Homo sapiens: one gene and its partner. The protein of the gene in region 2 interacts with the protein of the main gene of each other region in a biochemical or structural test. Each region holds a gene or a part of one and is shown on either strand. Other genes may lie near its edges.

The links.
Region 1: the proteins of PPP1CC (region 2) and PPP1R9B form a complex in vitro, tested with the Homo sapiens proteins (2 studies listed by BioGRID).

What each region holds. Positions count from the first base shown.
Region 1 is NC_000017.11:50,133,678-50,137,177, forward strand, and holds the end of PPP1R9B (neurabin-2), read right to left. Parts: intron 2,521-3,500; coding exon 2,291-2,520; intron 1,973-2,290; coding exon 1,876-1,972; intron 1,708-1,875; coding exon 1,654-1,707; 3' UTR 60-1,653; downstream 1-59. UniProt on the Homo sapiens protein: Seems to act as a scaffold protein in multiple signaling pathways. Modulates excitatory synaptic transmission and dendritic spine morphology. Binds to actin filaments (F-actin) and shows cross-linking activity. Binds along the sides of the F-actin.
Region 2 is NC_000012.12:110,718,829-110,722,535, reverse strand, and holds the end of PPP1CC (serine/threonine-protein phosphatase PP1-gamma catalytic subunit), read left to right. Parts: coding exon 1-64; intron 65-266; coding exon 267-401; intron 402-1,370; coding exon 1,371-1,460; 3' UTR 1,461-2,331; coding exon of another isoform or gene 2,332-2,402; 3' UTR 2,403-2,856; downstream 2,857-3,707. UniProt on the Homo sapiens protein: Protein phosphatase that associates with over 200 regulatory proteins to form highly specific holoenzymes which dephosphorylate hundreds of biological targets.

The DNA of each region.
Region 1 (3,500 bases), on a different chromosome or scaffold from region 2:
GCATCCTTGATCCCTGCCCACTCCCCACCTCAGTGAATCAAGAAACCAGGCAGCAAGGCTCTGGGGGCTGCTTTTATGGGGACGACCTGACAGAGGGCATGGTCCGTACAAAACCGGGAACAATACATACATATATATATTATATACAGAGATGCGGCCCTCCCGACGGCTGGGCAGGGGTGGCCGCTGGCCCAAGCAGCCCGAAGCGGCCCCGCCCACCCGGTTCCGCCCCCTCCATCTGCCGGGGTGAAGTGCGCGAGCCCAGGACTGAGACAGCCAGCTCCTTCAGGGGATGGGGGCACATCTGGGGATAGGAAGGGGTGGGGACAAGAAATACTGATCGAAGTCATGGTCTATTTACAGGGGACAAGAAGCCAAAACGGATGGGATGGGTGGTCTGTTTTTAAAAAATGAACAAAAACCCAGTTAGGGCAGGGGCATGAAGTGGCAAAATGAGATGGATTTTGAAAGGGGAGGGGACCTGGGGGAGGTGGTCTCACCTCCCTTGGTCCAAGCCCCAATTTGGGGTTAAAGTGGGGAAACAGAGTCGATTTCACTTAGAAGGCAGGCTGCCAGCAGGGCAGCCCTGGTCTCCAAAAAGATGAGTAGTAGTAAAATTTTGCCCTCCAGTCAAAACATTGGAAAACCAGTAGGGGGTGGGGGCGAGGCTGACTCCCTGCAATGTCAGTAGGCTTCCAGGCATCGCCCTGGGCTGGGCAGACAGGGCAGCACAGGATAGGACCTGACTCTCCAGGGAGAAATGTTCCCCTTGCCTAAGACCAGGGTCGCTGTAGCCAGACCCCCTTTCCTCCCTGGCATTCCCAGGCTTGACCAGGAAACCTGGACCCCAGAGAGGCCACATAACAGTTCCAAGACGAGGTTATGGCTATTTGGCACCTGGAAGAGGGGAGGCACAAGGAGAAATTGAGGGCTGCTGCCCCAGGCAATGGGGAGCTGGGGACCAGGTGTCCTGAACTCTCCCTTTTTCCCACTCTCACTCCCCCTTTTCCCGAAGGACACATGAGAAATCAGTGCAGGGCCAGGGCCAGGCCCAGCCTCCGGGCTCTGGGGTGGACTCTATCCCTCCCAGGACAGGGAACAGGGATGGGGGAGGTGTTGAGGCAACGCCCCCACCCCCCAGGCGGGAGGGTCAGAATGCAACAGAGACGGCACAATGATGGGGGGAGAGGGAAGGGCCGAGAAGGTAGAATCTCAAGTCAAGAGGCCCAGGGGCCACCCAGGTGCCCCATGGGCAGGGAGCAGCCCCCAGTTGGCAGATGCTGGGAGAGCCCCAGCCCCGTTCCAGTCCAGAGACAAAAGCTGGAGTGTGTAAAGTCTGGCAGTTTGATCTGCAGGTGCTTGTGTCCGTCGACCACCAGGCCAGCCCTCGGCAGCCCTCGGCCTCTGTGCCTCAGCCCCATGGGGCAAGAAAGAGGCTGCCCTTCTAGCCACCTCTGTCTGCCCAGGCCATCTTAAGGGGGCCTGTGATATGAGCCCTCTGGTCCCTGAAGCTGGGGGAGGTGGGGTGGAGGGGTGGGGGGAGTCGGGGCACCTGTCCCCAGGCTGGAAGGGGGAGGGGTGGGGTGTTGAGGACAGGGGAGGGAGGACAATGGGAGGGGGGTTAATTATTGTCCAGTCATGGAATGATTCCTGTTAAGTAGAATTGGAATTCCTCAGTGTTTGCAAGTTTCCTTCCAGTTCTGAGATCTGGAAAACAAAGGAGGGTAGGGGGTCAGGTCTGGACACCAGGCATGATCCCAGCCCCTTCCGCCCCCCGGTGAGGACATGGCATCCCCTCCCTCCAGGACCCACAGGGTAGGGGCTTCAATGCTGCTCCCTCCACTGGGCCCTGCCCACAGGGCGCCCCAGGCCCACCTTGTCCAGGAGCTTGTCCATCTCCTCCTTTCTGGCCAGCTCCGACTCCTCCAGAACCCGACGCTGTGCAGTCTCCTTTTTCAGGAACTCGATCTCCCTGGGCACAGGCAAGGGACAGATGGCAGGTAAGGGTGTGTGGTCTGGCTTTCATCCAGGGTGACCCAGGTCCTCAGCTTTACCTGGGCAACTCTGTCCTTCCCTGTTCTCAGGTCAGGAGGCCCCAGGTTTTCCCAAAGCCTCTGGGGGTCTGGCTCTGTGCTGGCTCTGATGCCTGGTCATTCCGGACCGGGTGTCCCCACCATGGGGCCCTCCAACTTCTGTGCCTCCCTACTCAGCTGGAGGGATGGGGAGGGACTGTCCCCAAAAGCCTCTCAATGCTCCCTGGGCCCAGCCCGCCCAGCCCCCAGCCACGTACTTCTGCTGGTAGTCCTTGATGAGGCGCTTGGCCTTGCTGTACTTGCGCTCCAGGGCCTGGTACTGCGCCTGAGTCTCCCGCAGGTGCTCGTCCACAGCCTGGCACAGGCTCTGGGCCTCACCCCAGTAGCCTTCCAGTTTCTCCATGCGCTCCTTGTTCTCCTCCACACTCTGCTCCAACTGCGCCTTCTCCACCCGCCAGCGCCCCTTCTCCTGCTCCAGGCTCTGCAGCTGAGAGAGAAAGGCACGGCCCTGGGTTGGTGGGGGCCAGCAGGAGCCAAAGGGTACCCCCATCCTAGCACTGGGGCCAGAGTCGCCAGGGGATTCCTACCGTTGTGGAGTCCATTGCACCCCAACTACTAACCCTCTTTGGCTGAGCCTGAGAACTGAAACCCAGAGAGGAAAGAAGTAGAGCTCAGCCTCAGAGCTCCCACCAGACTCCCTGTCACTGCACCCCACTCGCAGGGAGGCTGGAGGCTTCGGTTAGTCACTGATACTCTGACTTGGCGCAATGCAACTAATGTCCCAAGCCTCAGTTATCCCATCTGTAAAATGGCAGTGATATGTGCCTCCCAATCTCACAAAAGCTCCAGTGAGACAGTACATGTGAAGTAAAAGGGCAGATGAGGGTCACCATTACTCTCTGTCCCCTCTCTGCAGCCCCAGCCCTGCTCGCCAGTCTCTGCACTTGTGGCTTCCTGAACAATCCTGGTTCTCTCCCAGCTTCCAGGTGACCCCAGCGCAGACCTCCAGTCCCCCACAGCTCAGTTCCGGATCCTCTGTTCTCTCTATACTCACTGCCCTGGGGCACCGGCCCATCTCCCACACTACCTCTGTGCACTCTGAGCTGCAAATCTCAAGTCCCAGCCCACCCTTGCTCCCAACTCCCAGCTTTAGCTCCCAGCTCCTCCCAGGTACCATGCCCCAGACCAGGCCCCCGCAGCTGCACAAACCTATGCCTCCTTTCCTGACTTGCTCTGTTAAAAGGCGCCACAACCTCATAGCCATGTTGGCACTCAGTCTCAGGCCAGTATTTGCTGCAAACATCCCTTGCTCTCTGTCCCCCAGCCACACAGGCCTTCCTGCAGATCCTCAGACTTGCCACAGGGCCTTTACGTGTGCTGTCCCCTCTGCCTGGAATGTCCCCCATCTACCCTCCTGCTTGCCTAGTTATTTCCCTCTAGCTCACCCTTCAGCTCTCTGCTGTGTGT
Region 2 (3,707 bases):
TGCAGAAGTGGTTGCAAAATTTCTCCATAAGCATGATTTGGATCTTATATGTAGAGCCCATCAGGTATTGATTTTGAATTTTACATGTACACTTAAGAGCATGTGTGTGAGCACAGATTCTCCTTGTTGATTTTGGTGGGTAGGTATTGCTTATTTATACAAAGTGTTTCTGGAACACAAGATATCAGGCTCAATGGGAAACTGAAACATGGTTTTACTCACCTAATATTTGCACCTATTTATATTGAAAAAATTTTCTCTTCAAGGTGGTTGAAGATGGATATGAATTTTTTGCAAAGAGGCAGTTGGTCACTCTGTTTTCTGCGCCCAATTATTGCGGAGAGTTTGACAATGCAGGTGCCATGATGAGTGTGGATGAAACACTAATGTGTTCTTTTCAGGTAGAGCATGCTTTCAACATGATTTCCTTTTAATATGTTTACACTTTGCTGATTGAAAAATATAATTGCTACTTTTTGCCTAGTGTTCACTTATGCTGAGTAGGCTAAGTTTTTATTTTCCCTTAACCAGTGTGTATTATAGTTGAATAATGTGTGGATCCCTTGTAAAAGAAAAAATTAATTATGGCACCTTTTCCCAGTGTTGAATTATAAATTTTTGCATTGCATATTGGCTCCTTAATGCTTATGGCTCTTTTACTGTAAATCTAAAACCTTAATGACAATGTAATGTTCAGCTAAAATTAAATCACCACTTGAATGTGAAAAGTACTGAGTGCCTTGTGCTATGTGTTTACTTAGTTCTGCCCTCTAGTCTAACTTCCACAAAACTTCTGTTAATGTACCATGACATCATTTGGCCTTCAGTTGGCACAAAAGCATTATTTAGAATCTGCCTCAGCCTTTTTCTCATTTGCTTATTATGATACTTGTACAACTTCAAGCCAGCCTAGTCATAAACATAAATACAGCCACCAAATCATGTGGCACTCATCAGTTAAATGAATTAAAATAGTTTTTTACCAATTATCAGAGAGAACTTGCAGCTTTCAAAATTCCAAAGATTGTGCAAGGATCCCCTACAGGTTGGAGAAACACTTTTGTAAAGAACTTTTTCCCCTGTATCAGAAGGAGTAGCTAAAGATACTACCAGGTGTAGACTTCAGAAGATTGTCATTATACTCAGAGGCAAAATAATTTGTCCAGATAATAGATTTTATCTGTTCGTCATAGCGTTAATTACCAAATGTTTACATTCAACATAGCTTGTGTTAATATGCTAGGGGGGCTTTTACAGTTGTTGGGGCAGTTGTGAACACCATCTGAACAGAAGATCTGAATGAAATTTAAGGACTCTTAAGATTTGGGGTTGAGTATATTTCCTAAATTAACTGTCTTTTGAATCTCCAGATTTTAAAGCCTGCAGAGAAAAAGAAGCCAAATGCCACGAGACCTGTAACGCCTCCAAGGGGTATGATCACAAAGCAAGCAAAGAAATAGATGTCGTTTTGACACTGCCTAGTCGGGACTTGTAACATAGAGTATATAACCTTCATTTTTAAGACTGTAATGTGTACTGGTCAGCTTGCTCAGATAGATCTGTGTTTGTGGGGGCCCTTCCTTCCATTTTTGATTTAGTGAATGGCATTTGCTGGTTATAACAGCAAATGAAAGACTCTTCACTCCAAAAAGAAAAGTGTTTTGTTTTTTAATTCTCTGTTCCTTTTGCAAACAATTTTAATGATGGTGTTAAAGCTGTACACCCCAGGACAGTTTATCCTGTCTGAGGAGTAAGTGTACAATTGATCTTTTTTAATTCAGTACAACCCATAATCATGTAAATGCTCATTTTCTTTAGGACATAAAGAGAGCCCTAGGGTGCTCTGAATCTGTACATGTTCTTGTCATAAAATGCATACTGTTGATACAAACCACTGTGAACATTTTTTATTTGAGAATTTTGTTTCAAAGGGATTGCTTTTTCCTCTCATTGTCTTGTTATGTACAAACTAGTTTTTATAGCTATCAACATTAGGAGTAACTTTCAACCTTGCCAGCATCACTGGTATGATGTATATTTAATTAAAGCACACTTTTCCCCGACCGTATACTTAAAATGACAAAGCCATTCTTTTAAATATTTGTGACTCTTTCCTAAAGCCAAAGTTTCTGTTGAATTATGTTTTGACACACCCCTAAGTACAAGGTGGTATGGTTGTATACACATGCTGCCTTCTTGGGGATTCAAAAACAGGTTTTTGATTTTGAATAGCAATTAGTGATATAGTGCTGTTTAAGCTACTAACGATAAAAGGTAATAACATTTTATACAATTTCCATATAGTCTATTCATTAAGTAATCTTTTTACAGTTGCATCAGGCCTGAACCCGTCCATTCAGAAAGCTTCAAATTATAGAAACAATACTGTTCTATACGAGTGACCGATTATGCTTTCTTTGGCCTACATTCTTTATTCTGCGGTGAAGTTGAGGCTTATAAGTTAAAACAAAGGAACTAACTTACTGTCCACCAGTTTATACAGAACTCACAGTACCTATGACTTTTTTAAACTAAGATCTGTTAAAAAAGAAATCTGTTTCAACAGATGACCGTGTACAATACCGTGTGGTGAAAATGAATTCAGACTTATTAAATGATGAACTTGTTAAATCTTCTCAGTGTCTATTTATCAGCACAATACACACAGGAGAACTGTTGATGGCATATTGAATAGATTTTCCTGAATAAATTGCTCTGGAAACCACACGGTTGCATTTTGGTTTTGCTTCTTTCAAATAGTCTGTTTTCCAAAGATGGATTATAATACAGATACTAATACTCTTTGAGTTGTAACCTGGAGACATCTATTTGTGTAATAGAGTGATGAGGTGGAACGATCCTCCTCTACCATTTGGGGAGATGGGGATTAATCTGTGTCCATAGTTTTCTTACTGTCTGGGTTCACTTGAACTTAGTGGCGAATTTGAAAGCAGCTCACTTTGTTTTCTGAGTCAGCCACCTATATTTTCATGCACAGTTCTTTGATCTCTTCCCCCTTCCCTGGTTTATATGGAACACAGTATCATGTCATATTTTGTCACAAGTATGTATCTTAATTTCTCAAAGGTACGCTAAAAATGAGTGAAGAGCATGTCATTTGAAAAGCTTTTTTTCCTGTTACAAAGTGGTCTCCCTGAGGGCGTTGGCAGAGGACCTAGCGAGGAACTCTTTGAAGGACACAGAAGAGCACAGGGCCATGGACTCCCCTCTGCTAACAAGCCCCGGTCCTGAGGCATCTGGACCCTGCCATGCTCCCATCAAAGAGGGAAGGGGGACCTCATTACCTGCCTGCTCCACATTGACAATATCCAAACTTGTGCTGTTTCACTTTTACGTAATATTCTCCCAGACTTCTTTGACTATAGGAAGAAAACAGTGAATGATAATTGTGTCAAAGGCAAATTCTGCACATCTTTATGTCCTGAATGTTAATGAATTGATACTAGGATTTCAAAATGCTATAAAGTAAAATTGGGCTGCTCTACTAGGATTATATCATTATTGGAGTGTGGTATCAGGCTCAAGTTTTTCTTAAGGAACATTTATCAAGTACTAAGGATTATATCATTATTGGAGTGTGGTATCTGGCTCAAATTTTTCTTAAGGAACATTGGTCAAGTAGAAGACAAGATTAATCTTTGGTTTTAGGACCTGAGATCATTAGGAGAGACTCAGTTTGAAATCTG